Linked DNA regions of Homo sapiens. The protein of the gene in region 1 interacts with the protein of each later gene in a pairwise test. Each region holds a gene or a part of one and is shown in the gene's direction. Other genes may lie near its edges. The genes, in order: FGFR1OP2 and TRAF3IP1.

The links.
Region 2: the proteins of FGFR1OP2 (region 1) and TRAF3IP1 interact in a two-hybrid assay, tested with the Homo sapiens proteins (2 studies listed by IntAct).

Annotation. Positions count from the first base shown.
Region 1 is NC_000012.12:26,951,041-26,967,216, forward strand, and holds the end of FGFR1OP2 (FGFR1 oncogene partner 2), read left to right. Parts: intron 1-3,104; 5' UTR 3,105-3,118; coding exon 3,119-3,253; intron 3,254-5,502; coding exon 5,503-5,620; intron 5,621-6,560; coding exon 6,561-6,703; intron 6,704-9,474; coding exon 9,475-9,588; coding exon of another isoform or gene 9,589-9,597; exon of another isoform or gene 9,598-9,711; intron 9,712-12,301; coding exon 12,302-12,415; intron 12,416-13,555; coding exon 13,556-13,693; 3' UTR 13,694-15,608; downstream 15,609-16,176. UniProt on the Homo sapiens protein: May be involved in wound healing pathway.
Region 2 is NC_000002.12:238,387,856-238,404,031, forward strand, and holds the end of TRAF3IP1 (TRAF3-interacting protein 1), read left to right. Parts: intron 1-9,603; coding exon 9,604-9,824; intron 9,825-10,898; coding exon 10,899-11,064; 3' UTR 11,065-13,042; downstream 13,043-16,176.

The DNA of each region.
Region 1 (16,176 bases):
TTAAAGACCTAGAATAACCTCTGAAGATGCTTTGATTAATTCAGTTGAGGTTTATAATTGCTCGGAGGCAGGGAAGCTAAACCTTAGCTGCTGAATTAAGGTATACGATTTTTTTTTTTTCTTTTTTTGAGATGCAGCCTCACTCTGAGGCCCAGGCTGGAGTGCAGTGGTGCTATGGCTCACTGCAACCTCTGCCTACTGGGTTTAAGTGATTCTCCTGCCTCAGCCTCCCAAATAGCTGGGATTACAGGCACCCCCCGACCAGGCCCGGCTAATTTTTGTATTTATTTATTTAGTTAGTTATTGAGACAGCCTGTTGCCCAGGCTGTAGTGCAGTGGTGCAATTTTGGCTCACTACAACCTCTGCCTCCCAAGTTCAAGCAATTCTCTTGCCTCAGCTTCCTGAGTAGCTGGTATCACAGGTGTGTGCCACCACGCCCAGCTAATTTTTGTATTTTTAGTAGAGACGGTGTTTCACCATGTTGGGCAGGCTGGTCTTGAACTCCTGAATTCAAGTGATCTGCCCTCCTCGACCTCCCAAAGTGCTGGGATTACAGGTGTGAGCCACTGCGCCCAGCCCAAGGTATACAATATAATAGACAGTGGGGTTTTGATGTCGTGTTGTTAATACTCCCAGGACACAGGGTACTATTTTTGTACTCAAAAAGATTTATGATTATGTAGGAAGACTATCTAGACTGAGGGCTATTTAGCTATCTGATCATATATAGGACCTTATTGCGTTTTATTTGGAAACAGATCCTGTCTATTGCATTTGTAGATGTTATGTTTTAGTGTGTAAAGAAGGGTTCTTCTTATAGTAGTCCCAACAATATCATTTACAGATTAGGACTGTTAGAGAGTTCTATTACTTGAGTTCTATTAAACCAAGGTAAACTTTATTTTCTCTCAAATCTTTTACAATTTGTTGTAGAGTTTCAAATTTGTCTTTTATTACTTTCACCATCTGTTATAAACTATTATTTTTACTATAAAACCAATTTTTTTGGTTATTTCATTTTTCTTAGTACAAGTCAGTGCCCGTCCTTTTTTTTTTTTTTTTTTTTAATTTTGCTTTACAGACAGCTTTAAAAGTTTACTCAGAAGGATCCGATGTTCTATAGTAATGGGATTAATGGGAGTTATAGTGATGTCCATTTAACCTATTTATGTTAACTTTCTTAACAAATAAGAAAGTTGTCTGTCTACAGTTTTAGATAATTTCCTTTGGAAATTTAGAGGAAGTACAGGGTATTGTTGGGCACTAATGCCTCTCTCAGAACGGCATCTTCGGATAGATTTTGGGTAGTTGTCCTTTTGGGTATTAGCCAGTATCAGACAATATTGGTTCCTTTAATGGCCCTTTTACTCCTCATATTTTCAAGCATCCTTATCTAAACCTCCTGAATCTTACAAGACAAATCTTGTGGTGGTTTTCTCTAGAGAGCCAGAAGTTATATTAATTTCCAGCTTGTTTACTTCTTAAGGCTCTCTGGAAATGTCTGATCATATATTGGACATTTTCTAAATTGGCGATTTAAATAACAGGAGAAAGTCTTCTGAAATTGCCTGATGTGTTTTATGAAATATTTTATACTGTTGAGTTATTTAAATTTTCTCTTTGCTACTTGTTGCTTTTTTTTTTTTTTTGTATTGGAGGGGATAATCATTAATTGGACTAGTTGGTACAGATCTGTAGTCCAGGGCAGTGGTATATAACAAAGTCCTGAATTCTGTGGCAAATTGCTGTTTTAATAAAGTTGATGAAAGTCTTTGTTTATAACCCTTCACTTGGATCTACACCAAATTTTAATTTAACTTCTGTAGACGTGGCTTCTGGCCTGGTAATTTAGTGTGATTTTATTTTTTGAGGAAACCCTGAAGAAAGGATGACTTATATTGAACGTTAGGTAAAACTTAGTAGAAAGATAAAAGATTTCAGCTGGGCACGGTGGCTCACACGTGTAATCCCAGCGCTTTGGGAGGCCAAGGCGGGCGGATCATGAGGTCAGGAGATCGAGACCATCCTGGCTAACACAGTGAAACCCCCGACTCTACTAAAAATACAAAAAAATGAGCCAGGCGTGGTGGCAGGTGCCTGTAGTCCCAGCTACTCGGGAGGCTGAGGCAGGAAAATGGCGTGAACCTGGGAGGTGGAGCTTGCAGTGAGCCGAGATCACGCCGCTGCACTCCAGCCAGCCTGGGCGACAGAGCGAGACTGTGTCTCCAAAAAAAAAAAAAAAAAAAAAGGAAGATAAAAGATTTCAAGGAGGGTAAGTGTAAGTTTCAGGAGAAACTTAAAGTTTTGGAAAGAGACTTTAAAATTATTAAAATTTTGTTTGAGGTTTCTACATACCAGTTGAAGAAGCTGACAATTGACTGTTTCATGTTTTGTCTCATATTTCTTTCAGCTACTCTTAAACATATTGCTTACTGATTTTAGCATATCAGAAGTTTCCTGTAATTACCAGTTTTGTCCTAAGTCAAAACTTTTTTTTGCACTTTAAGGAAGATGCAAGAGTTAGAATTATAATGCAACTTTATGTAAGAAGCAGAAGTTCTTCCAAGAAGAGGTTGAGACTTTAATGTAGCATGACACATTGAGGCCACTTCGGCTGGTCAGCAGTGTTTGTGAACAGTGTGTCAAGTCACCTGACCAAGCAGAGGTTAGGAAGCATTCTTACAGTCAAAGTTTTCAGACAGTCATTGACCCCAGAATACTGACCAGTAAACCAAATGATCTTCCTCAAAAGTGACAAGATAGGGAATGCCCTCATAAAGGGCAAATTTCTATATAACATTATATTCCTTGGACATGTACTTTTTTCCCCACTGTAAATTTAGAGTGTTTTAAATGCGTTCTAGTTCTGTCTGCAAATCTTTTAACTGTGTTCTAATTTTTTTGTAATAGTATAAATTTACTTTCAAGTTTGTAGTATCCTAACAGAAGCAAAACCACAGTGTTCTTAGGTGTTTTTTCCTCCCTGGACAGTGAACAATACTGTAACAAATGTGGCTTAAGAAGCATATCTGTGTTGACATGAAGCTAAAATAAAGAGATATGTTGACTTTATTTTGAGTCTTGATTTTAATTTTAATTATAGATATATCTTTAGAAATGAGTTGCACAATTGAGAAGGCACTTGCCGACGCTAAAGCTCTTGTTGAAAGATTAAGAGATCATGACGATGCAGCAGAATCTCTGATTGAGCAAACCACAGCTCTCAACAAGCGAGTAGAAGCCATGAAACAGGTTTGATTTTTCTTTCTTGTTCATTCCATTTATCAAAAGCAGTCATTGACATTTATGTATTGCTGGCTAATTAGTATCTAATTTTTTTCAACATTCTCTAAAATTTTAAAGTAGCTTGACTTGTGTGTTTCAGGTTTACTTTAATTTTGTCGTGTTCAGGTGATATACCTAGACATATATTTCTAAACCCTAGATTTGATCACTTATTTTGCTGACAGAGTTGCACATTTGAGTTTAGAAAATAAATGAATTTGTTAGGTCTAGAAACATTTGACAAAGACCAGATAATACCTTTTACTAATGTTGGTACACATTTTGTTCTGTCTTGTATAATGTAGAAATGTTCATATTTTTCTTTATAAAAGTACTTAGGTGATGCTGTTTAACAACAAAATAGCTTTTGAAAATGATGCAAGGTAATATGTGATTTATACTCTGTGCAGTTATTGTACCCATACTTGCTACCTTATTTTTCATTCAGTGCTACCAATTAAAGAATACATAAGGGCTTTCTTCTTGCTATTTTTACTATTGTATAACAGAATATTCCCATGGGCCACGGAGTTTAGACACTATTTTAACCTTCTTCTGATAAAAATTTTCAAGTCATTTAAGAAAATTATAAAATCTCTGACATTATGATGGAAATCAGAGGGGGAAAATGTATATTCACAGCCAAATCTCCTCATCTATTTTGTAAAAGGAAGCAATTCTGGGATAGTATTTTTAACAAAGCTACTGGAAATAGTGGAGCAAGTTTAGTTATTTGGTTTTACAACTGTGTTGCCCTAAACAGATTTACCTGCATCCCTAACCAACTGTCCAGCTAGACTCAGGCACTTCAGTGAACATATATCTGGTATTGAGTTGTTAAAAAAGGAGTTTGACATCTGAAGTTAAGAACCAGGAGTGTTATAATGAATATGTTACTAAGTGTCTCATGAGAATGCCTTGAAAATAAATAAGTGCAATTTTAAAATAAGATTCTCATTTTCTTAATGGAAAATCTTTTTGCATTTCTTTTGTACATGTTCTATTAAGATATTCACATACCATAAAATTTACTTTTTTGAAGGGTACAGTTCATTGGATTTTAGTACACATTTGCAGGTTATGCAGTATAACCACTACCTGATTCCAGAACATTTTCATCACCACAAAACCTTACATCCATCAGTGGTCTCTCTCTAGTTTCCCCTTTCCTCAGTCTCTGGCAACCACTAATATTTCTATCTCTTTGAATTTGCCTATTCTGGACATTTCATATAAATGGAATGATAAAATATGCGGCTTTTTGTGATTGGCTTCTTAACATAATGTTTTTAAGGTTCATCTATGTTATAGCATGTATCAGTACTTCATTCCTGTTTATTGCCAAATAATATTGCATTGTAAGGATACAGCACATTGTGCTTATCCATTCATCAGCTGATAGGCATTTGGATTATTTTACTTTTTTGGCTGGTAAGAATATGCTGCTATGAATATTTGTGTACAAGTTTCTGTGTGGACATATGTTTTCAGTTTTCTTGGGTATATATGTAGAAGTAGAATGGATGGGTCATATAATAACTCTGTTAAAATTTTTTGAGGATCTGCCACATTGTTTCCCAAAGCAGCTATGCCAAGCTTGTCCGACCTGTGACTTGCTGGCTGCATATGGCCCAGGATGGCTTTGATTGCGGCCCAGCACAAATTCACAAACTTTCTTAAAACATTATGAGATTTTTTTTTTTTAAAAAAAAGCTCATCAGCTATCGTTAGCATTAGTGTATTTTATGTGCAGCGTGATAATTCTTCTTCCGATGTGCCCAGGGAAGCCAAAAGATTGGACACCCCTGAACTACATCATTTTACATTCCATCAACAATGTATGGAAGGTTGCAGTTTCTTCACATCCTCTCCAACAATTGTTATTGTCTTTTTCATTACAGTCATCCTCGTGGGATATATTGAATTGCATTCTCCTAATGACTAGTTAGGTTAATTAAGTATCTTTTCATGTGCTTATTGGCCATTTGTATATCTTCTTTAGATAAATGTTTATTCAAATCCTTTGCCACTTTTAAAAATGGGGTTATTTTCATTTTATTGTTGAGTTGTAAGTGTTCTTTATATATTCTGGATACTAAGCTCTTATCAGATTTTTTATATGTATATTTCAGATATATTTATATTTATATATCATATATATATATATATATATATTTGCAGGTATTTTCATCCCACATGTTTTTCTCCCCCATTAGTATCAGGAAGAAATTCAAGAACTTAATGAAGTCGCGAGACATCGGCCACGGTCCACGTTAGTTATGGGAATCCAGCAAGAAAACAGACAAATCAGAGAGTTGCAACAAGAAAACAAAGGTAAGATACGTTACTTTTTGACATTAATCCCATTTCTAGTCTATATTCCTAAATCGTATTTATTGCTCTTTATCCTGTCCCACATATGAACATCTGCCTGGTTGACATCCTCTTAGATTCTCACCCTTAATATCCAGTTAGCACTGCTGTTGTTAGCTATGAAATAACCCAGCTTCATTCTCTGCAGTCCCACTGCATTGGCCCCCAGATTAGATGCTCAGTCTCTTGCCTGAAATGTCCAAACTGATCTCCCTGATTCCAGTCTCTCTTCCCCCTTCCAATCTGTCTTCAACATAACCATCAGATTGATATTTCAAAAATCAGTCTGATCATGTAATTCTTTTGCCTAAGAACTTTCATTATATACTTATTACCTTTTACAGGGTCCCTAAAAATCATTTCCCAGCCTTTTTTTTAAATCTTCTTCCCACAGCTTTCTTCACTGTGAACTCTTTGCTCTTGCCAACACCAATCACTTCCTAAACACGTCATCTGTTTTCATGCCTACCTGCTTAGAAGGTCCATTCCTTCACTTTTCAACTGAGGGAACTCACACTGTACTTCTACAAAGCTTCCACCAGTTTCTTCCCATAGACATCTCTTAAATCTATTTGACTTAACACTCCACTCTGCCACCTACCACATGCTTGTTTTCTCTACTAGACTCTTGAGGTCTGTGGCCCTTAATATAGAGGGAGCCTTGGCCGATATTAATTGCTGTTTAGTACATCTTTGTTGAAATGATTCTCAAGAAACAAGCTTAAAATATTCAAAAAACTAATACGGGACTTCATTTGGTGTCTCTTATTGTTATATGGCTAGATTTTTGTGCATTGTGTTTTCTTTTTAAAATGTCCCGTTCATAAGTTGCTTAGTGGAAGAGAATATTTTGTGTACTTTTAACTCAAGTTGGAATAAAATACAATATTATTCTTGATAGAATTACGTACATCTCTGGAAGAACATCAGTCGGCCTTGGAACTTATAATGAGCAAGTACCGAGAACAAATGTTTAGATTGCTAATGGCTAGCAAAAAAGATGATCCGGGTATAATAATGAAGTTAAAAGAGCAGCACTCCAAGGTAATCCATTCTATAAATGTGACCTGAAATGGAAAAGAGAGACGATTGATTATTCTGTGTTCAGATTTTTTTTGAAAAAAATCACAGGTATCTAGTAATGGCATTTTAACATGATGTTGAATGTTTCATCTTTTTAATTGACATTTTCTCCTTTTTCTTATTTTTCCATTTCTTGTTATATATCATTTTCTGTTTGATTTATAAACTCTCACTGTTTCTTAGAAACTTTAATTTGTACGTTGAAAAATAAATTTTATTTTGGATATAAAGGTAAGTCTGGTCTCTTCAACATTATTTTTGTAGGGCTATATACTTTTAAGAAATATTTCTTAAAGGGCTGGGCATGGTGGCTTACGCCTATAATCCCAGCACTTTGGGAGGCCAAGGCAGGAGGATCACTTGAGGCCAGAAGTTCAAGACCAGCCTGGGCAACATAGCATGACTCCATCTCTTCAAAAAGTAAAAAAATTAGCCGGGTGTGGTAGCACATGCCTGCAGTCCTAGCTTCTCAGGAGGCTGAGGTGGATAGACCACTTCAGCTCAGGAGTTTGAGGTTACATTGAGCTACGATCATGCCATTGCACTCCCATCTAGACAACCGAGTGAGACCCTGTCTCTTAAAAAACAGAAATTTTTTTAAGAAACATTTTTTCTAATAAATTTGTGTATTGACTTCTCTTGCAAAAACAAAAAATAATGGAAACCTTTTTTAAAATCTGAAAGCAGTTTAATGTAGATTTTTCTTAAGACTGTTTTCTGAATAAGGCTAATTCATCCAGACTATAAATGATCTTGTTTATTATAATGGAAAAAACATGGGGTTCAGGAGAAGAACCAACATAGTAAAATTTTGCTCCCTTGCCCCAGTATTGTATACCAGTTGACATCATTTTTTAGAAACAAAGCTGAAGTAGTTAGAAATTAGTGTTTTACCTGCTGTTCATCCCTTTGTCATCCCTGTGTCTATTCCCTTTGGTATGTCCCCATATTTTATGGCATATTTTATGGCAACTGCTATGAAGACAAGTAGAATAATCCTTTCTCACATATTTATTTTAAACTGAGTTTTAGTTGCTGATATGAAATAAAAATAATAAACTAGATTGTGGAAACTAGACTGTTACCTGTATTAGATAATGGTGAGCTGACTATTATTATTACCAATATTATTTAAGAAACAGTGATTATGAGCCTTCTTTTCCCCATTTGTTACAACAGAAATAGGAAAGGACATATTTTCATATTTATCTATTATTGAAACACATTTTAGATTCTTTAAAATACTTCTTCCATTTTGGTGCTTGTACGTGTTTTTAACTTATTAGTAATTAATTCTATTAGAATTAAATACCTATCAAATAGCTCTTTATATGCCTTTATTATATTAGAAAACCTAATGATAGGTACCTCTTGTGTCAACCAGTAAAATAATAAATTAAATTAAAAATTTGTGTTTAATGTTTTCTAATTATGCTATTCATCTCCTAATCAAATGGCAATCCAGGGATGTTTAAGTGGTGATCTTTTGAATACAAAATTTAACTATTGTTAATGAGACCATTCTAAAATCATTTAAATTTAAAGGTATAATAATAACTATAGTAACTAAGACTTTTTAAAGGCACTAAAAGGAGTTGACTTAATATTATTTGTAAGATAAATATAATCTTGAGAATTTCTAAAAGGTTTGTATGTTTTATAACCTAAAAATAAAATGTTAAAGATCTAAAGCGAAGAATACCATTACAAAAAAAGTGCTTAGAATAGGATAACTATAGCTTGCAGGTCCCATCTGGTAGCAACTATGACAGAAGCAAATGTTTCCTAAAATATATTAGATTTTACTATTCACCAGAGCTGGTTTATTAATTAGTAAGGTTAAACATTTCCTAAGATAGCTGTAAGCCATCCTTTTTTATTATGTAGATTGAATTCTTCATCTAAGTTCAGATGATCCTTGCCTCCCATAAAATGACTATTCAGTTATTTGTTATTAATTTTCACTAATACATATTAATGTTTGTGATTTTGATTTTTCCCAAAAAGGAGACACTTCGACTTAATTAAACAAACATTAATACTGGCACTGGGTTAGTTATGGGAAATAATAAGATGAATGTACAAGCTTGCAGTATAGTGGGAGATACAGACACAAACATAACAATCTACTATAAGGTAGGGCGTGATGAATCCCAAAGTAGATGAATTGTTACTGGAACGCTAGAGGGAACAATATTAACTGTCATAAGGAAAATCTGGAAAGGTAACAAGGAAGGGAAGAAAGTCTGTCTCAGTCCAGCCTTGAATTAATTATGGGCAGGTAGGTAAACAAGCAGAAGTGGGTGGGTGGGCAGAGAAACTTGTATAATAAAAGCACAAAAAGTATGGTATTGTAGGGTGTGTTTAGGTACTAGTGCTCTGATATGCCTAAACACAAAAGTAATTTTACAACACATTTAGAGCTAAGAAACAGAGTTACACATAACAGCATTTTGGATTGGAGTAAGAGATCCTTTTGAGACTGTTATAATACAGAACTTTGCCCTTAACTAGAAGTTTTTGAGCACATACTTAAAAAATCAGTAGAAAGTTTGAGAGCTCATTTTTACCCAAATACTAATTTTCATGTTATTTTTGAACAGATGCCTTTTTGGAAATCTTAAAAAAGCAAACATTTCAAACAGTTGGCTAACACGCATGAACTAACACTCATTCAGTTTTTAAATTACGGATGATATCCGTATTAACATTATAATGACTCTATACTACAGATTGACATGGTACATCGTAACAAGTCCGAAGGATTCTTCCTTGATGCATCTCGACACATCCTTGAAGCACCTCAACATGGACTGGAGAGAAGGCACTTGGAAGCAAATCAGAATGTACACTAAATAAACAGTCAACTTTTGGGGTGTGGATGGAAGGGGGGTCCATTTTAAAAGTGCTTTTACATTGAATTTCCCTCCCAGATTAGATCAGCAAATAAATGAAATTTATTAAAAGAATGTTGTGTCTTTAATAGCCATGCTGTTCAGTGTAGAAACTTTAAATCTCTCATTAATTTTCTGTGTATTGTATCATGTACAGCCTGTTAGATATTTGCAGGTTTTATAGGTTATTCAGTCCAACGCTTTATTTATTTGCTCTTGTTAGTTGTTGCTGTGAAACAGTCATTTCCTTTCTGGACATCAAAGATATTTTCTTGGCATTAATTTTAAACTGATTTCATAAGGTCAAAGTATTAAATGTTTTAATTCAGATTGTGGATAGTTTGTAGTCCTTTGATTTTGCAAATGAAATTAAAATGCCTTTGTTTAGATGTTAGGATTAAGTATAGTAGTGCTCTCTCCATTGTGTCTTAATTTTTTTTTAACTCACTTGTGGCAGGTCTTTATTGAATAAAGGAGGAATAAACCTAGACAGGGAGTTAGAAATGAAAGACATTTCAAGACAGTTCAAGGGTTATGTTGGTGACACTTCTTGTCTTCCAGACAGTTTTGAAAGCACAGATCTTGCCTCTTGTGCTTGTTAAAAAATCTGTGATACTTCTCTGAAGATTTTATAATTAAATAAGTGAACCATTACCATGACCTTTTATAAAAGTGCTGCCCTATTTGAAGTATTGGGTTTTTTCTCATGATGAGCTTTGTTAGACTTGGTACTGAAAAAATCAGTAGTTTTTTTCCTTCTATTTTAAAGGCAAAGAAATGCTTGCTTCAGCTAGGCATGGTGGCTCATGCCTGTAATTGGGAGGCTGAGGTGGGTGGATCACCTGACGTCAGGAATTGGAGACCAGCCTGGCCAACATGGTGAAACCCCATCTCTACTAAAAATACAAAAAGTTAGCCAGGCGTGATAGCGGGTGCCTGTAATCCCAGCTGCTCGGGAGGCTAAAGCAAGAGAATTGTTTGAACCTGGGAGTGGGAGGTTGCAGTGAGCCGAGGTCGTGCCATTGCACTCCAGCCTGGCCAACAAGAGCGAGACTCTGTCTAAAAAAAAAGAAATGCTTGCTTTCTGTGTAGTTTTTTAACTTAGGTCAGTGCCATAGGACTGACCAAATCATAAATTGAGGATGCTGTTGGTATTCAAAGTTTTTACTCATTACCCTTACTCAGTTTGCAGCTGCAATGATCTGTACTTAACCTGCTTTTACATATTATGCTTCCTTGACAATGGGAGGAATTTTAATGGTTAACTTGCAGAATATGACAGATACTTGTCTTAATATCATTCTTCCTACCATAATCTAATTCAAAACTATCCAGTAGAACTTTCTGAAATGATTGGAATGTTTTTTATCTGTGCTGTCCAGTGTGGAAGCCAGTAGCCACATGTGGCTGTTGAGCACTTGCAGTGTCACTAATGCGTTTGAGGGACTGAATTGTTAATTTTTAAAAATGTATTGATTTTAATTAAGTTTAACATTGTTTTGGACAGCACAGATTAGCCTTTTAGAGTACCTTCTTGCTGAGTACTAGCAGTGTATAGGTTTCCCCATGAAAAGGACCTACATTTTTGTTGGTTAAGAGGTTATTAAATGTGCTTTGCCAAAGATACTACCTTGTCATTTCTTCCAGCTTATTAGTTCCGTGGGTTTCTTGGAGTACTGTTAAATCCTTTTTACAAATATATATATACACAACTACTGAAGAGACTGTTTATTTGGGGAGTTATTCACTTTTATATTTAAGTCTTAGGCTTAATATGATAAAATACCTCTCAGTTGCTGTGAATAATGGTCTATAGAAGCTGTTCATTGAGAAAATGATTATTCTCGAGTTTCTGTTGATTTTAAACCTTTTTTGTCTGTCTCTTTCACTAGACTGTAAGCTTCTTCAGATCAGGGGACATGTCTTGACAGTCTTTGTATTCCTGTTGTTTAGCATAGTACTGGCACATCATAGGTGTGCAAGATAAGAAAATGAGATTGGAAGAATTTATGCTACTTGCTGCGCCTAACAAATGTGGATGTCTGTATTATACTGATACTATATTTTCAATAGTTAGCAAAGAAGGCCATTTAATATTTTAATACTGAAAAGCAGAATTGTGCTCATTTTATTCAATACTTACCATATACCATACACTAGATAGTAGGTGGATGTAAAGATGCAGTTCCTGCTCTCAAAGAGGATTATGACCTAGAAAAGGTTACAGATTGGATTGAGATAACTTTATAGGCCTGAACAATACAGAAAAGATTTCTAAATCATTGAAGACTTCAGGGAGGAAAAGAGATTGAATGCGTCGGCAATTTTTATCATTCCCGTTACTTTGAACAATAGTGTATGTAAGTGCAAAAAAAAAGAAAAAGTTGCTGATCATTGTGGTGAGAGGAATGTAAAATATGAGTATTTTTCTTGCTGCTAGGTTTAGTTATATTGTGCTGCTTATTCTTAATTCTAGTCCTAACAAATTTGATTTCAAAAGCACATCTGTGGTCAACCAACTTCATTGTTAATATTTGTTTTATTCATATTAAGTGACAATGTAAGAATATTCATGTTAAGTGGTACTGCAGATTTTATAAAAAGGAGAGGATCCAAAAATAAAAAAGTATTTTGCTGATTTCCAACTCCCATCCCTCTTTTTCAGGAACTGCAAGCACATGTTGACCAGATAACTGAAATGGCAGCAGTAATGAGGAAAGCCATTGAAATTGACGAGCAACAGGGTTGCAAGGAACAAGAACGAATATTTCAACTTGAAGTAAGTTTTACATTGCAAATGTAGATGAAAACTGTCCATATAAAGATTTATGCCAGAAAATATATCCCATTTTTAAATATATATTTACTCTTCTTGGGTACTGGTAATGTTCTCCTGGATGCTGTCTATGTGGGCATATTATGCAAGACCATTTATGTGGTGATGCAAGAATCTAGGATTATTAGTAACTTACAATATACCAGTAATGTAGAAAATTGATGTTTCATTCTATATTGCTTATCTTATGAAGTGAATGTACTTCTTCAATTGAGTCATTTTTAAAATTTTGTTTATTCTATTAGAGATCATAGTGATACAGGGAAATTTTTTTTAATCCACAAATATTTAGGGGCACTCTTATTTTTCTGGGGATTCTAAAAACCTTTGTCATCTGTCCTTTATTTTATGACAGTGAAAGTACCAGTCTCTGAATAACTGAAATCAGTACAATAGACTTTTATGCCTTAAGAGCTTCATTTTGAAATCACGGCGGGGAACCTGCTTTAGACTACTAAAATTTAGAAAGTGAGACTGAAGATAAAGTGATAGAGAACAAATTATGAAAGGTTATTGTTAAATGTCTACAAATTTTTTTACAGTAACTAACCAAAAGGAGGCCAGAAAGCAAAGTTATTTACCAGTGCCAGATTTGGTCACTTACTTTCCTTCTTGAAAAATATCATCAGCTACCCCTACCCTGCTGCTCTCAAATGCCAATGAGCTAAACTTGTCCTACATTCCATGCTATCATGGAAAGTAATAAAAATACTAAAAATTACTAGGAGATTCTAGCCTATTCACTGGCTTTACGAGTTTATATAAAAATAAATCTAGATGTTATTTTCTTCATCTCTAATGTGATTGTAAAATAAGGCAATTTCTGAGCTTCTGTTTACAATTATAGCTGCTTAAGTAAGAAGGCTTTGCAGTGGTGGAAGATGTTGAACACGATTCCTAGCTGCATAAGTGTTCTTTAGATTCAAGTTGCCAACTGCATATATCATTGAGTAGATTAATGCCAATTACAGACCTTGCTTGTTTGTTATACCTTCATATGTTCAGTTTTTCCTAACATATGTTTGTGATGTTGTAGCTACCTTGTAGATAGTGACTGCATCTTTGTTTTTGCTTGCCTTTTAGCAAGAAAACAAAGGCTTGAGAGAGATCCTTCAAATAACTCGAGAATCATTTTTGAACCTAAGGAAAGATGATGCGTCGGAAAGTACTTCTTTGTCAGCATTAGTGACCAACAGTGATTTGAGTCTGAGGAAGAGCTGAAGAGTTTCTGAGTCTGTGAGCTTCTTACATGGCTCCAAATGGTCAAATAAGTGAATGAATGAATGGACAGAAAATTCAATCCTTTATTTTTTTCTCTGTAAATATGTACAGTGCACGGGCTATGAGATAGCAACAAAAAATGCATAGTTAATGGTCATAGACTTTATTCCAAAACATAATTGGAAAATAGAAACTGAGCCATTGCCAAATGGTAAAGAAATGAAAAGTTTTCACAGTGACTACTGAATATACCAAGAGCTTTTGGCAGTACTGCTGGCTTTCTGGGTGATTAATTAGGTAAACTTGAATATTCCCAGTAAATGTTTGAGAATGCATAAAATTATACCAATTTAAAAATATAAATTTTTGCCACTGTTTTGTGAACGGAGGATTTGTACGCTAAATTTCATCCTTATTTGGCGTCAAAGTTGATGCAAAGTTTATGTACCATGAGACTTCTAGTGATTGCCTACTTTCACATTTATTTAAATTTTTGTGAAAGAAAATACAGTTTTAAAGGCTATAGGAATGTGTTATATGTACCTTAAACAGATAATTTAATTTTAGCAATTTATCATAACTGATACTTAGCTAACAATTGTCCATAACTTGTTTAAGTGTAAGAAATACCATTTCAGGAATGAAAAAGAAGGAATACTACTTTCTAAGAAAGAAGATCTTATAATAGACATATTTAGTAGGTTAAACTACTCCTTTGAAAGAATAAGTTTTGGTTCAAAGTCAATAATGAAGACGAGATTTGTTTTTCTCTTCTCTGGCTGATTTTTAAGGATATTATGTAGTTCATTTAGTTAACAGAATTGAAATGTTTGATATGGCAAGATAGGTATGGTAATTTCAAAGTGAATTGGGAATTCCTCTGGCTCATAGAACCCTTTTTTTTTTCCTTTAAGTATTCTTGAGATACAAAAAAAAAAAGTAAATACAATTTCAAAAAAAAAGTTCCGGATCTGTTTTTAAGCTCCATCTGGTCCTCATAACCTGCAAGATTTTTCTTAAAACCTTTCAGCTGAAAGTGGGGGTAAAGGTGGAGTAATCTGTGGATTTGTTTCTGTTGTCTTTTAAAATGTCAAATATATAATATGTAATTTTTTTAAAAACCACCAGATACAGAAATGTGCTTTAACATCAGTTGAAACCTAAATTTTCTTATGTTGTGGTGATTGTATTAAAAAGGGATAAAAGAAGAGTGTCAAACATGGTTAAATATATTGTACTCATTTATGTTGAATACGTATTAAAATTAAGACAAATGGAAAATTATACTTTGAGTATATAATTTGTTAAATATTACTTTATATGGTAATTTTATGTATAATTTCATATATTGGTAAAATTCAAAACTACACTTGAGAATTTTTTTATCTTAAGTTTGGGGTGAATGGGGTGGATGAGACTGATTGAATAGAAAAGGGCTAATGGCCCAAACATTATATAGATTTCTTTTTTTCAGTCAGAGGCCTTATTTGATATTTTATAAATAAATGACAGTTTTTATTTTTAAACTTTTTATTGTTTTTGGGAAAGTATTCCTTAATTTAATGACACATTCATTCAGATACTTCTTATCCCTGCTAATAAAGGAAATCTATTTCAAGCTACACCATTGAGATTAAGTCTGAGGCAGTTCATTGAGGCAGCTCTACTATAAAAGCTTACTTGATAAATAATTATTTTTGTAAACAAGTTGGGTTAACTTATTCTTCGTCTTTTTGCTTGGATATGAATTTAAGGTCTTCATGTTTAAAGACATTTACTTTGTTATTTAGTGACACATTTCCATCCTATTTTTTTTTTTTTTTTGGTTGTTGTTAAACAGAACCTTAAGTTTATGTTTGAGGTATGTACTGCATAGGAACCTATTTTATTATTAAAGATGAATGATTAAAATTGGTATGGTCTCCAATTTAATTTGAAAAGTGCTTACCCTTATTCTTATATATGGTTTAATTTTAAGGTTTTTTGTCTCTTCTTAGTGCAAAACTACTTAGCAGTGACCTCTATCTGTATTCCTTAGGAATTAGCAGCTTCTTAGTGTGGATCCTGCAGAACTTCTTACCATTTGTAGTAGGTTGAATCATGTCCCCTAGAAGGTAAGTCTAAGTCCTAACTTGATACACCTGGGAAGGTGACCATATTTGGAAATAGTCTTTACAGATGTGATTAGGGGATCTCAGGATATAATTACCCTGGATTTTGGGTGGGCTCCAAACCCAGTGACTAGTGTCGTTACAATAAGAGAGGAGGAGATATGAAACACAGATATAGCAGCATGAGGACAGAGGCAATGAGTTACGCAAGGACTGCTAGCCACCACCAGAAGCTGCAAGAGAGGCATGGAATGGGTTCTTCACGGGCTCCAGAAAGGACCAAGCCTGCTTGATTTCAGACTTCTGGCCTCCAGAACTGTGAGGAAATAAATTTCTGTTGTTTTCATTCACCCAGCCTGTGGTAATTTGTTA
Region 2 (16,176 bases), on another chromosome or scaffold:
ATCACTTGAGGCCAGGAGTTCAAGACCAGCCTGGGCAACATAGCAAGACCTTGTTTCTGCAAAAGTAAAAAATTAAAAAAATTAGCCAGGCATGGTGGTGCACACCTGTATCCCAGCTACTTGGGAGGCTGAGATGGAAGGATTATTAAGCTTAGAAGTCCAAGGCTGCAGTGAGCTGTGATTGCACCACTGCATTCCAGCCTGGGTGACAGAACAAGACTCTGTCTCAAAAAATTAGTCGGGTCCGGTGGCTTATGCCTGTTATCCCAACACTTTGTGGGGGCCAAGGTGGGTGGATCACTTGAGGTCAGGAGTTCAAGACTAGCCTGGTCAACATGGTGAAACCACGTCTCTACAAAAAATACAAAAATTAGCCTGGCGTGATGATGCGTGCCTATAATCCCAGCTACTCGGGAGGCTGAGGCAGGAGAATCACTTGAACTGGGGAGGCGGAAGTTGCAGTGAGCTGAGATCGCGCCACTGCACTCCAGCCTGAGGGACAGAGGGAGACCCTGTCTCAAAAAAAAAAAAAAAAAAGGATGTGTTTGCAGGCTGTTTTGCTTGTGTGTTCAAGGGATCCAACTTGACCTACATTCGAGATGAACATATGGTTTATGAAGAAGTTTGGTGATGGAATATTTCTGGATGAACAGGACACTTAGAATAATTATTCAGTCATTCTGTGCTTTTCTTTTGTAAATTGAATGCAGGTATTCCTCTGTTTATGAAGAACACAACTTTTTTTTTTTTTTTTTTTTTTGAGACAGAGTCCTGCTCTGTTGCCCAGGCTGGAGTGCAATGGCGTGATCTCAGCTCACTACATCCTCGACCTCCTGGGCTCAAGGGCATCATCTTGGCTCACTGTAACCTCTGCATCCTGGGCTCAAGCAATCTTCCCACCTCAGCCTCCTAGGTAGCCAGGACCACAAACATGCACCACTATGCCTGGATAATTTTTTATAGAGATGGAGTTTCACCACGTTGTCCAGGCTGGTTTCAAACTCCTGGGCTCAAGCCATCTGCCCGCCTTGGCCTTCCAAAGTGCTGGCATTACAGCGTGAGCCACTGCGCCCAGCCTAGAAAACAAACTTTTGACAGGTTGCATATAAATCAATTCCTGAGGTCATGAGAGAGTATGTTATTTGAAGCAAATACATACTCTTTTGATTTATTGCCCACCTCCCCACCCTACAATTAATCAGGCTTTTGTTTATTGGGTTTGCTTAATGTCGGGTAGAGCTCTGCTCAGGAGTGTGGCTGAGCAGTCACATCCAGCAGCGGGGCAGGGCAGCGGTCAGAGGCCTCCATTCCCATGTGCCCTGGATCCTGCTTCCGAGAGGGACTTCTGGCAGCATTAAAGACCAGACTTCTGAGACATTTTTTTTTACATTTTATTTTGTTTTAGATTTGGGGGTACATGGGCATGCTTGTTAATGGGTAGGGACTTGGCTTCTCGTGTACCCATCACCCAGTAGTGAATGTTGCACCCAGTGGGTAATTTTTCAACCCTCCCCCTCCCAACCCTCCCGCATTTTGGAGTACTCAGTGTCTATTATTTCCATCTTCATTTTTTAAATTTTATTTTAAGATATTTTAAAAATAATACTTTTGGCCGGGTGCAGTGGCTCACATCTGTAATCCCAGCACTTTGGGAGGCCAAGGTGGGTAGATCACTTGAGGTCAGGAGTTCAAGACCAGCCTGACCAACATGGTGAAACCCCATCTCTACTAAAAATACAGAAATTAGCCAGATGTGGTAGCAGGCACCTGTAATCTCAACTACTTGGGAGGCTGAGGCAGAAGAATCTCTTGAACCTGGGAGGTGGAGGTTGCAATGAGCTGAGATTGCACCACTGTACTCCAGCCTGGGTGACAGAGTGAGACTCCATCTCAAATAATAATAATAATAATAATAATAATAATAGTAATAATTCTCTTGAAGGATTGCAGTTGAAATTCAAATAAATCTCTAAGGTCAATAATGTGTATTTATATGACTTATAATCAATAACTATAAATTTAAAAATCACTAGAAGTGCAAATGCCCATGTTTCTGAGGACAAGTGTGTGTGTGGTAAAATGCAAATAAAATAGTCCCAGAAATAACTGTTCGCTTGAGAAATCTTGGAAGCATTTTCTGAAAAGTGTGTGCGCACGTGAGCACATGAAGTGGCCCAACGCTGAGCTGCCTTGCCAGAGGCCTTCCTGCCAGAAGGCAGCTGAGTAAACAGTCTTTAGCCCGCAGGAAAAGGGAGGCCAGCCAGGTAGGAGGCAGGAGGGGACAAGAGGGGTGACTTTGTGTCCCCTTGAAACACACGTGGGCTGCCACCTCTCTGTTTGCCTAACTTGGAGAAACTGCCTTTAGACACTGGATCCATGGTGAGGGTGCCACAAAAAGGTGCCGTGGGTGGTTCTGCGATGTTCACAGCAGACTTCCTCTGAGCTCAGGATCACCAACCTTTCAGCGGAGAAAAGAGCTTTGAGATGAATTTCATAGCTGTGGGTTATTTATATTCTTAAAATGGAGATGGAGAAGGAAGTGTGTCGATGAGGAAGGTAAATTACATTTTAATGAAAGAACTTGCCTGGACATGACAGCTTGTTAGGTGGTGCTGATAATATCTATAAATACTTTTTTCACTGTGCGCTAAAGTATTCCAAACATGCCTGGCTAAGAATGTTTCATAGCCAACAAGTTGACAGGAGGTAAAATAACTGTATCAGTGCACAGGAAAAAGCACCCATGCCTTGTCCTGGGGGCACTTGCAACTTGCTTCTTTCTGGGGAATAAATTTACGATAATGGTTAACATCTACTTGAGGGTTTACTATGTGTGAGGCACTGAACTGCTTACTTTATATTATCCCATTTAATGTTACCTGAAGGATAAATATTATTATTTCCATTTTCTTGTGAGGAAGCTGAGGTACAGAGAGGTCATTCCAAGGTCATAAAGTTAGGAGGTGGTGAGGCTGGGTTGTACCAGCCCCTGGAACCACAAGGCACTGACTGCGGGTCCTGCTGCCCCCGAATCCTCCTATGGTCTAGGTGGTTTTAGGTCATATTTTGTGTAATGACAGATTTCCTTTCCTTTTCTTTTCTTTTTTCTTTTTTGAGAAAAAAGGGTTTCGCTCTGTTGCCCAGGCTGGAGTACAGTGGCACAGTCTTGGCTCACTGCAACCTTCTCCTCCTGGGCTCAGGCAATCCTCCCTGCTTAGCCTCCTGAGGAGCTGGGACTACAGGTGTGCACCACCACGCCTTGGTAATTTTTGTATTTTTTTTGTAGAGGCAGGGTTTCACCATGTTGGCCAGGCTGGTCTCAAATTTCTGGCCTCAAGTGATCTGCCCACCTCAGCCTCCCAAATTGCTGGGATTACCGGCATGAGCCAACACACCCAGCCATGACAGATTTTCAATAATTAACACAGCAGGGGCAGTCATCTAATTCCTGTGTGGGGGTAATAGATCCTCAAACTACTATTGGATTAAAAGTCTTTAAAAACAAGGTTGTTTTTATCTGGAAAATTGTTGATATATCTACATGAGCAACATATAACTCGAGGTCTGTCATCAGAGAGGTGTGCTTTTTAAAGCAAATAATCACGGCTTGATGCGTTCACGCTGCCCCTGCTGTGTTAAATGAAAGCTTGAAAATTGCCAGAGTGTTGGTGTTTTGCAGCAATGTATTCCAGTGCCTTTATGCTAATAATAAAACCTGTCCTGACTATCACAATCCCAGCCCAAGTGTACTTATTTTAAAGTCTTAATCTCTTAAACATAAATTATAAGCTTTAAGATTAGTGTTCCAAATTCTGCTTGGTCCTGTGCAATAGAAATATGAGGAGTTTGGCCAGATTACCTCTTAGTGTCTTTTTCTACATTGTAACTCTCCAATTTTGTAAGATATTTGTTTATATTAGTCTCCTACCTTAAGGTCCATGCCCTAAACATTTTTATATTAGAGTTAACACGATGCCAAATGCACAGGAATTACTTGATAGTCATTATGAATGGGTTTTAATAGAAGTTTGAATTTCTTAACTAAGTCAATGAGACATTTACTAATTTGTGTATAATAAAGACAATATATTTTTCTCTTGGGAAGTAGCTTATTTTATTGAATTCATTTCAGTCATTTAGCGTCTTAATTTAAAGGCATTTTATATAGCCTTTTAGAAATTAAACGTTTGATATAACCATAGATTCATATCCAGTTATAAGAAATAATAGACGCCCAGGTGTGGTGGCACGTGCCTGTAGCCCCAGCTACTTTGGCAGGCTGAGGCAGGAGAATCGCTTGAGCCCAGGAGTTTGCGTTCAGCCTGGGCAACACAGTGAAACCCTGTAAAGAAAAAATAGTAGAAAAAGAAATAATAGAGATATACTGTATGCCTTTTGCCCACTTTCCCCCAGTGATAACATCTTACAGAACCATAGTACATTGTCAACCAGGATATTGACAATGAAACAGGATCCAGAACATTTGTATCACCTCAAAGATCCCTCTTGTTGCCTTTTTATAGCCACACCCTCTTCCCCCACCTCGAACTCTTCCTTCACCCCCAGCTACCACCATCAGTTCTCCATTTCTGTAACTTTGTCTTTCCAGAATCTTGTGTAAAAGGAATCCTACAGCATGTAACCTCTTGGGATTCACTTTTCTTATTCCTAATCCTCTGAGGGCCATCCAGTTTGTTCCATGGATTAGCAGTCTGTTCCTTTTTTTTTTTTCTTGAGACGGAGTTTTGCTCTTGTTGCCCAGGCTGGAGTGCAATGGCGTGATCTCGGCTCACTGCAACCTCGCCCCCCCACCCGGGTTCAAGGGATTCTTCTGCCTCAGCCTCCCGAGTAGCTGGGATTACAGGCATGCGCCACCGCGCCCAGCTAACTTTGTATTTTTAGTATAGATGGGGTTTTGCCATGTTGGTCAGGCTGGTCTCGAACTCCTGACCTCAGGTGATCTGCCTGCCTCAGCCTCCCAAAGTGCTGGGATTGCAGGCATGAGCCACCATGCCTGGCCAGTCTGTTCCTTTTTATTGGTAGATAGTTTTCCCTGGTGTGGATGCACCACAGTTTAGTTAACCAATTACCTATCGAAGGACACGGGGGTTGTTTCCAGTTTGTGGCTACTTTGATTAAAGCATCCGCATGCATTTGTATACAGGTTTTTCTATAAACATGAATTTTCATTTGTTTGGATAAGTGTCCAGGAGTACAACTGTTGGTTGATACTGTAGTTGCATGTTTAGTTTTATAGGAAACTGCCAAACTGTGTTCCAGAGTGGCCATATCTTTTTACATTCCTGTCAGCAATGAGTGATCCAGTTTTCCCTAACCAGCATTTGGTGTTGTCACTATTTTTTATTTTAGCCATTCTGATTGTTGTGTGGTGATGGCTCATTGTGGTTTGAATTCGCATTTCCCTAATGCCTAATGATTTCAAACATATTTTCATGTGTGTGTTGGCCATCCTTATATCTTCTTCAGTGAAATGTGTCTTTTGCCCATTTTCTAATTGAATTATTTGCTTTCTTGCTGTTGTGTTTTAAGAGTTCTTTGCATATTCTAGCTATAAGTCCTTTATTGGATGTGTGATTTGCAGTTGTTTTTGCTCATTCTGTGACTTACCTTTGCGGCTTCTTCCCAGGGTCTTTCGCAGAGCAAACATTTGAAATTTTTGTCATGCTTTTGGTGTCAAGTCTTCGAACTCTTTGCCTAGTCCTAGATCCCAAAGACTTTTTCCTCCTGTGTTTTTTATCTTAAAGTTTTATAGATTATATTTAAATCCATAGTCCATTTCGAGTTAATTTTTGTTTAAGATATGAGATTAGGTCAACGTTTTGTTTGTTTTTTGGCTTATGGATGTCCACTTAACCCAGTGCCAAATGGTGCAAAGCTCTCTCTGCCACTAAATTGCTTTTGTACCTTTGTCAAAGATTGCTTGGGCATATGGACATATTCGTATGGATCTACTTTTGGATTCTGTGTTCTGTTCATTTGATCTATGTCCCTCTGTCAATACTGCACTGTCTTGATTACTGTAATTGTATAAAAAGACTTGAAGCCTACGCGGTGGCTCACACCTGTAATCCCAGCACTTTGGGAGGCCGAGATGGGAGGATCACCTTAGCTCAGGAGTTTGACACCAACCTGGCCAACATGGTGAAATCCCATGTCTACTAAAACAAAAATTAGCTGGGCATGCTGGTGTGCGCCTGTGATCCCAGCTACTTGGGAGGCCGAGGCAGGAGAATCGCTTGAATCTGGGAGGCAGAGGTTGCAATGAGCCAAGATCACACAACTGCACTCCAGCCTGGGCGACAGAGTGAGACTCCGTTTCAAAAAAAAGCCTTGAAATTGGGTAGACTGGTTATTTCTGTCTTTATTCTTTTTCTGAAAATGTTTTAGCTATTGTAGTTCCTTTGCCTTTCTGTATACATTTTAGGATAATCTTGTCTATACAAAAACATTGGCTGCAAGTTTGGTAGGATTTGCATTAAACATGCGTATCGGTTTGGGGAAAATTCATGTCTTTACTGTGTCCTGTCTTCCATTCCATGGACACAGTGTGTCTTCTCATTTATTTAGATTTCCTTTGATTTCTTTCATCTGCATTGTTTCGTTTTCCATTTCCAAGTCCTATACATGTTTTGTTAGATTTACAACTAAGGATAGTCTTCTATTGAACAATTGTCAATGGCATTGTATTTTTAATTGCAGTGTCCATGTTTTCATTGCTCATACATAGAAATATAGTTGATTTTCATATGCTCATCTTGTATACTACAACCTTGCTGAACTCACTTATTAGTTGTATGAGTTTTACGTTTTACTTAAAGTCCCAATTATTTAACACTTTCTATGTGCCAGGCATTATGCTAAAGCTTTCTTGTACTTGTCCAAGCCAGTAAATGGTGGAACTAGGATCTTCATACATAAATCATTTATCCACTTCATTAGTTCATTTCACAAATTCTTAGGCAGAGCTTATGTGAATCACAGTGAATCTAGGCACAAGGTCCTGCCCTCCTGAGCCCACAGTCTGAAACTAGCAGAAGTAATGCAAGTGAATATGTAGCTATGATACGTTCAAATTAAATAAGTTGATTTGTTACAACTGAGTGCATTTACTAGCTCATTCTGTAAGTGGGTGAGGCAAGGAAGGGCCCCTTACCGGTCTGGAGTGGGTGGGGGGGTGTCCAGGGAGGGCTTCCTAAAGAAACAGTGTTGCAGGGCATGATGGCTTACATCTGTAATCCCAGCGCTTTGGGAGGGCAAGGCAGGAGGATCACTTGAGCCCAGGAGTTTGAGAGTAGCCTGGGCAACATAGTGAGACCCTGGCTGTAAAGAAAGAGAGAGAGAAGAAAGAAAGGGAAGAAGATAACCATCTGATCTTTGACAAACCTGACAAAAACAAGCAATGGGGAAATGTTTCCCTATTTAATAAATGGTGCTGGGAAAACTGGCTAGCCATATGTAGAAAGCTGAAATTGGATCCCTTCCTTACACCTTATACAAAAATCAATTCAAAATGGATTAAAGACTACATGTTAGACCTAAAACCATAAAAACCCTAGAAGAAAACCTAGGCAATACCATTCAGGACATAGACATGGGCAAGGACTTCATGTCTAAAACACCAAAAGCAATGGCAACAAAAGCCAAAATTGACAAATGGGATCTAATTAAACTAAAGAGCTTCTGCACAGCAAAAGAAACTACCATCAGGGTGAACAGGCAACCTACAAAATTAGAGAAAATTTTCGCAACCTTCTCATCTGACAAAGGGCTAATATCCAGAATCTACAATGAACTCAAACAAATTTACAAAAAAAAAACAACCCCATCAAAAAGTGGGCAAAGGATATGAACACACACTTCTCAAAAGAAGACATTTACGCAGCCAAAAAACACATGAAAAAATGCTTATCATCACTGGCCATCAGAGATATGCAAATCAAAACCACAATGAGATACCATCTCACACCAGTTAGAATGGCGATCATTAAAAAATCAGGAAACAACAGGTGCTGGAGAGGATGTGGAGAAATAGGAACACTTTTACACTGTTGGTGGGACTGTAAACTAGTTCAACCATTGGGGAAGTCAGTGTGGCGATTCCTCAGGGATCTAGAACTAGAAATACCATTTGACCCAGCCATCCCATTACTGGGTATATACCCAAAGGATTATAAATCATGCTGCTATAAAGATACATGCACACGTATGTTTATTGCGGCACTATTCACAATAGCAAAGACTTGGAACCAACCCAAATGTCCAACAACGATAGACTGGATTAAGAAAATGTGGCATATATACACCATGGAATACTATGCAGCCATTAAAAATGATGAGTTCATGTCCTTTGTAGGGACATGGATGAAACTAGAAACCATCATTCTCAGCAAACTGTCGCAAGGACAAAAAACCAAACACTGCATGTTCTCACTCATAGGTGGGAATTGAACAATGAGAACACATGGACACAGGAAGGGGAACATCACAATCCGGGGCCTGTTGTGGGGTGGGGGGAGGGGGGAGGGATAGCATTAGGAGATATACCTAATGTTAAATGACGAGTTAATGGGTGCAGCACACCAACATGGCACATGTATACATATGTAACAAACCTGCACATTGTGTACATGTACCCTAAAACTTAAAGTATAATAATAATAAAAAAATTAAAAAAAAAAAGGAAAGAAGGAGAAAGAACTGATGTTAATTTTCCCAAGCTTATTGATTCTTATCAACTCACATCAGTTTCTGACATTCAGAGATGTCTGTGATCAAAGCTCATATGAAGAGAATTCTAAATGTTGCATGGCAAAGAACCCAAGAACTCCTGGCCCAAACCGCATGCAGCTCCCCACTCGTCTCTGCGTCCTCCTCACCTCCTTCACCTGCTGCTGTCTCAACTTGACCCCTTCCATCTGGCCCCTGACCCCTGGACTCTGTGGCCTCCCTGAGCGGCCAGCACAGTCACGTCTAAGTCGACCTGACCATCTGCCTGCTGGGTGCTGCTGGCTGCTGCTGGCTGCTGCTGGCGCTGGCTGCCCTGCACATTCTCCATGCCCTCCTTTCCATGGCACCAGTTTCTGCCTCTCCTTTGGGTTTCTTTCCCCTTGCCCCCTGGCAAGCTGGGTTTTGAAGTCATTTGGGATGGAAGGTGGGCCATTTGAAGAGCTGTAGGGTCAGGCCCTCATTCTGCCAGTCCATTTGGGAAAAATCTTCCATGTCACTAAGCTCTTGTAACAATAGCTACAAAAGTTGCTTGTTAGTTGGGAACTGAAATCTGCCTGTATAGAGATTTGCCCTCAGATGGATTTCCAGGTAAAGACAGACCCCCATCCCCATTGAGCAGGGAAGGAGCGGCCCCTCCCTGGCAGTGCTGTGTCCTCTGATGGCGTGCAGCACTTCAGAGTTACTCTGTTAGGCAGCATGGCTCTCCCTTTGCATGGGAGTGAGTGTCCCACAACCAGCACTGTCTCTGCCTGCGCCTTTCCTCCCAGCCCCATGGCCGTGTGCTGAGTGCACCGGCCCTGTTCTGCCTTTGGACTGAGGAGGCGTGTTCCTCTTCCTATGTCTCCCTGACTGTAGGAGCGATCTCTCTTTGAGTCGGCATGGAAGAAGGAGAAGGACATCGTTTCCAAGGAGATAGAGAAGCTCCGCACGTCCATCCAGACCCTGTGCAAGAGCGCACTTCCCCTGGGGAAGATCATGGACTACATCCAGGAAGACGTGGATGCCATGCAGAATGAGCTGCAGATGTGGCACAGCGAGAACAGGCAGCACGCCGAGGCCCTGCAGCAGGAGCAGAGGTGGGGGGTAGTAATGGGGAGGGGGCCCTGCAGCAGGAGCAGAGGTGGGGGGTAGTAATGGGGAGGGGGCCCTGCAGCAGGAGCAGAGGTGGGGGGTAGTAATGGGGAGGGGGCCCTGCAGCAGGAGCAGAGGTGAGGGGTAGTAATGGGGAGGGGGCCCTGCAGCAGGAGCAGAGGTGAGGGGTAGTAATGGGGAGGGGGCCCTGCAGCAGGAGCAGAGGTGGGGTGTAGTAATGGGGAGGGGGCCCTGCAGCAGGAGCTGAGGTGGGGTGTAGTAATGGGGAGGGGGCCCTGCAGCAGGAGCAGAGGTGAGGGGAAGTAATGGGGAGGGGGCCCTGCAGCAGGAGCAGAGGTGAGGGGAAGTAATGGGGAGGGGGGCCTGCAGCAGGAGCAGAGGTGAGGGGAAGTAATGGGGAGGGGGCCCTGCAGCAGGAGCAGAGGTGAGGGGAAGATAATGGGGAGGGGCCCTGCAGCAGGAGAGAGGTGGGGGGGAGCAGGGGGATAATGGGAGGAGGCCTGCAGCAGGAGCAGAGGTTAAGGGTAGCAGAGGCAGGGAGTAATGGGGAGGGGGCCCTGCAGCAGGAGCACAGGTAGGGGATAGCGGAGTGGGGGGAGTAATGGGGGAGGAGGCCCTGCAGCAGGAACAGGTTGGGGTGGGGCAGGAGGGTAATGGGGAGGGGGCCCTGCAGCAGGAGCAGAGGTAGGGGTGTAGCGGAGTGGGGCAGTAATGGGGAAGAGGCCCTGCGGCAGGAACATAGGTGGGGGGTAGTGGAGGGGGGATCCCCAAAGTCAATGGGGACTTTGCTGCATACCTCCTTGTCCCAGAGGTTGTTCTGTATGTAATTTAAGGACTTCAAGATTATCATTGAAGAAATATTAACTGCTGCTTTTATAAATCTCATGTTTGACTTCACTTTTGGTTGTAGCAGGGGTTGTGAAAATAAGAAATAAATATTATCCTTTTCTTTGGATGAAACGAATAATTTACTTCTGTTGTCTTTCAATGTCTTAATTAAGAAGCCAACACACAATGAGATGAGAGAGTGATGAGCCGCTGGTTTTGTTCTCCCTCAGGATCACAGACTGTGCCGTGGAGCCCTTAAAGGCTGAGCTCGCGGAGCTGGAGCAGCTGATCAAAGACCAGCAAGACAAGATCTGTGCTGTGAAGGCCAACATCCTCAAGAATGAAGAAAAAATCCAGAAAATGGTATATAGTATCAATTTGACTTCGAGAAGGTGAACACTCAAAAGTTTCAGAGATGAAAAGTCACCTCAGTTTAAAAGCAAAAAGGAAGATAGAAAATCATTACTCTTTTAAGTTCCAGTTTGCTAAGAAAATGAACAGTTTACAATGTTATTATCCAGCTAATTTTCAGAGCTTTAAAACTGTAAGCATGTTAAGTGTATTAAAAAAACCATGTTTTCTTACCTCCTTCCAGATGGAATACTGGCTAGTTATAAATAGCGCTTCCAAACACCTCTGTGAAAAGTTTTTTTGAAAGCCTGTTCTTTGTGTTTCTGCTGTAACCTGTTTAGTTCTGTACCAGAACTCTCTAGCAGGTAAGTGGTGTGGGCATACCAAGGGAACAGTAGTCCTTTATTTTGGTTTAGTGGAAAGACTTTCAGAGGTCAGTGCCGAATGAAGGATGACTGTGTACTTTTTGATAGGCACTTGATAAGTAGAATGAGGCCTGAAAATGAATACATTATATTTTTAGTTAATTTCCAATGGAAAGGGCTAACCTCAGCCTGTCTCCATATCAGGTACCTATCAACTGGATTGTTTTCATTTTTGTTTTTTGACCTCTTTGTAATTGCATGTACTTCTCTATGTAATTTTCCTCTTGATCTCTACTATCGTTTGCTTGTGTTTCTAGTCCTTAAAGTTCATAAATTTAAAAAGGAGATTTCAGGATGGCCTTTATGGACGTTGTCTGGACATACATCCTCACTTTCTTCCGCAGTTTACCCTGGTTTTCCTCAGACAGAGGCTAGCGCAGCCCCCCGGAGTCCTTGTTCTCCTTAAGAGGGTCTCGCTCTGCAAAGCATTGGCGCCATGGCTTTTCCTTTGCATGGGTGTGCATACCGAGAGACAGGCAGCTTAGGAAAAACAACATAAGGAAGACTTAAAAGGATGCACTGATTTACGACGTTTTTTGATGTTAGCCATTTTTTTGGAAATTGTTTTTTAAAGCAAAAGTTTTTTAAAAACATGGTTTATAGTTTTTCACTTACATATACTATTGTAAATACTTAGCAGAGTCTTAAGTTACTGTATAAAACATTTCATTGTGTTTGAAGACATACTTATGGGTCTTGAGGTCTGGGTCCTAATACTTTTAAATAGTGTATTTATTATGTAAACTGAGGAGTGCCATTTAAAGTGTGAGGATTGCCTGAAAAGGTTTTGTTTCTTTCTTTTTTTTTTTTTTTTGAGATGGAGTCTTACTCTGTCGCCCAGGCTGGAGTGCAGTGGCGCAATCTCGGCTCACTGCAACCACCGCCTCCCGAGTTCAAGTGATTCTCCTGCCTCAGCCTCCTGAGTAACTGGGACTACAGGCGCACGCCACCATGCCCAGCTAATTTTTGTATTTTCAGTAGAGATGGGGTTTCACCGTGTTGACCAGGATGGTCTCCACCTCCTGACCTCGTGATCCGCCTGCCTCGGCCTCCCAAAGTGCTGGGATTACAGGCATGAGCCACTGCACCCGGCCAGGTTTTGTTTCTTTAAGGATTAGCACAAATGGCACCGTTGGGTTTTTCTTCATACAATTTCCAAAATAAATTCTGTACTCAGGTTGTTATATGATTTTCTGAGCTGAATAAGTTCAGGAGCAGATTATTAAGATCTGCCATTCTGAAACGCTGGTCTTTTTCTCCTTCCTATAGTGCACCATAAAATTCTGTTTGATCAGATTATATTACATACATTTTGGGGGAGTGGAGGGACATGAGTTAAGTAGCCCTTCATGTATTTATAATCTCTTTTCTACTGAATCAAATGACTTAGCCATGACCCTGAATGGACCTTGTTTTACTTCAAGTTGAGATGTCTGCCTTTTATGAATTTGTATATGTGAATAGAGTTTGGGGGTTGCCAAAAATTGCATACATTGTATGTAAGTAAAATTTTTTATGAAGTAGTCTGTCAAATTGTATCATAAAGTTTATTTTTCTTTTATACGTAAATCATTAAAAATAATCACATATTTTTTCCATAAGTGTATGGATTGTGCAGTTCGATTCACACATGGAAAAATCATAAGCATTTGGATTTTTTATTTTCAAATGTGTGTGTTTTGTTTTTCTCGTGAGGAAAGTTCAGGGAAATACATCTTTTCATTCATATTGTGACACATCTCTTTTCAGTATGAATTGAAGTTTTATAAGATAGGTAAGCATTTATCAGAAATTGTAAGATCATTTGTGAAGTTTTAGAAGGTCTCTACACGTGATTGTTACTGTATCTTATCCTACACACTAGATCCTGATCTTAATTTGAGAAATTTAATTTTTCTCTTATTTTGAGACAATACACAAATGGGATTATTAAGTATTTTTCTATACTTTGGTTTATAAGTTTTCAGGGAGTACTGGAGTCATACTTCAGGAATTTGAATTTAAAAGTTGAGCTGATGATAATTTATATTCAAAGGAAATGCATAATAGACCTTTGGAAGAAATAGTTCAAGACTAAAATGCAGCTTTCTACTTTGATATTCATCCTTATTTTTCTTTTTAATAATCAACTTTTAAAAACTGAAATCTATGAAGAAAAATGATGTCACTTGGTGACATGAAGTGCTACTTAGGATTTGGGTGATATGGAATTCTAGTCAGTGTATTAACGAGTGCCCCCGAACTATTCCGGTGCTAGTCTTCTGAGCTGCCCTGGACTGATGGGGTTTATCTTCTGTTGGTCGATGTGCACAGTGTCATGGCACACGAGTAAGAGAAAAGATGGCCAGGGCCTTTGAGCAGCTTTGGGATCAGTAGCCAGTGTGAGCCAGCAGCAAGCAGGATGAGCAGCCTGTTTGAGCTTCCGCAGGAACCTGCTTCAGAAGGAGGCCACGCCCAAGCAGGATCAAGGCTCAGCATGTCACCGTCAGGGAAGACACTAAACACCCAGACCTGGACTTGGCTCCCCACTCTGGACTCTTCTTTCCACACCCGAAAGTGCAGAGAGTAAATAACCTTGTTCATGGCGCCTCTACGTAGACCACTGTGGGCTCCTCTGAGGGGCTCTCCAGCAAAGACTAATGTAGCAAAGCAGAAGTAAGAAAAATTCTAAGTCAAGCATGAGCCAGCCTAAGTCGGAGGAGAAGGAATAGCTGTTCTCAGTGATTCTCAAATGTAACTACTTGCTACATTTGGGCTCTGAGTTTAACTCTATCATAGGATACACTTTATTAATAAAAATGTTTTATATTTTCCTAAAAGGTGTTTCAATAAGTATGGTTTATGCAAGCTTTACATTGGGGCATTAGTGAAGCCCCCTAGTCAGAACCCCTTTTTGATTATGTGTATTTTCATAAAGGGATATTGGGAGGGACTTTGGTTTCTTTTAAATTCAGCAAGAGAAATTTAAATGTCTTTTAAAGCTGTAGAACTTGACCGGGTGTGGTGGCTCACGCCTGTAATCCCAGCACTTTGGGAGGCCAAGGCAGGCAGATCACCTGAGGTCAGGAGTTCGAGACCAGCCTGGCCAACATGGTGAAACCCTGTCTCTGCTAAAAATAAAAAAAATTAGCCAGGCGTGGTGGTGGGTGCCTGTAATCCCAGCTACTTGGGAGGCTGAGGCAGAAGAATTGCTTGAACCAGGGAGGCAGAGGTTGCAGTGAGCCGAGATTGTGCCACTGTACTCCAGCCTGTGTAAAAGAGTGAGACTCTGTCTCAAAAAAAAAAAAAACAAAAACAAAAACTATAAAACTTGTTTTGGCCAGCCGTGGTGGCTCATGCCTGTAATCCCAGTATTTTGGGAGGCCGAGACGTGAGACTCACTTGAGCCCAGGAGTTCGCGACCAGCCCTGGCAACATAGTGAGTGAGACCCCATCAAAATAAACAAAAAAGCCGGGCATGGTGGTGTGTGCCAGTAGTCCCGGTTACTCAGGAGGCTGAGATGGAAGGATCACTTGAGCCTAGGAGGTTGAGGCTGCAGTGAGTCATAGTCATGCCACTGCATGCCAGGCTGGGTGACAGAGCAAGACCCACTCTAAAATAATAATAATAATAATAATAATAATAATAATAATAATAATACATAAAACTTGTTTTTAAATCCATATATAGAGCTGAATTCCAAATTGGTTATCAGTTTCTTAAACCAAGCAAATTGGTCTTTCTGTTAAGAAAATGGAGTTCAAAAGAAAGTTAAATTACACATATTACAAGAAGGTTGTACTCTGGTCAGTCAGGGCAGAATCACATCCTTGTAAATGAATGCAGTCAAATGTGTGTGTCCAGATTGGTGGGCGTGTGGTGTTGGCGAAAGCACCATAGAAACCTCTGGGTGTCTTCTGATGAAGCCGGGCACCCAGAGCCATGTGATTCCAGGAGATGCTTGTGGAACAAGGCTGGGCTGGCCCTGCCCCACTGGGCACACCGATGGTAGGGTCTGATTTATGTTCTCCAGCAGCCAGGCATGACACTTTGTGGATAGTGCTATGTGTAAGTTTTTAAAGAAAATTATCCTTACTGTCAATCATGTATCAATATCACCCTTAGTCGTGCCAGGTATTCATGTTGGCATAACTAATTCATATTCCTAAAGTATTCATTTCTTCTTATTTAAAGGACTTTTAATGGAAGAGGTAATATATTAGCATGGATCCACAATCACGGTTAGCTGAAAGGGTCCTCTGTGAGAGGTCCCCTCCCGTGGTCCCTGTCTGCCTTGCTTCTCCTTGCCCCTGTAGGCAGCCATTTGCATTAGACCCTTGTACAAGCAGATAAGAATATTTACTTTTATACCCCTGCAACATACAGTTTCACAAAAGGTCATAGTCTATACCCTGTTCTGAACCTTGGCTTTTCGGATTTATGCAGTCTGGGGACCTCAGAGTGTCCACCCTAGACACCGTCCTCACTTCTCTCCAGGCTGCGTGGATCTCCCCCTGCGGCTGCCTGGCTTCTCCTGCTGGCTCCCTGGTGCTCAGTCGCGTGGTTTCTAGTCTTCCGCCATTAAAAGCAATGCCGCCGCGAATAGCTTTGTTCTCCCATCATTTCTTCTGTGTGGAGAGATACCCGGAAGTGAGACTGCAGGGTCAAAGCACAGTGTGTCGCCATATTGGTGGGTGTTGCCAGATGCTGTTTGTGGGATGGTTCCATGTTCCTGCACCAGAAAATATGTGG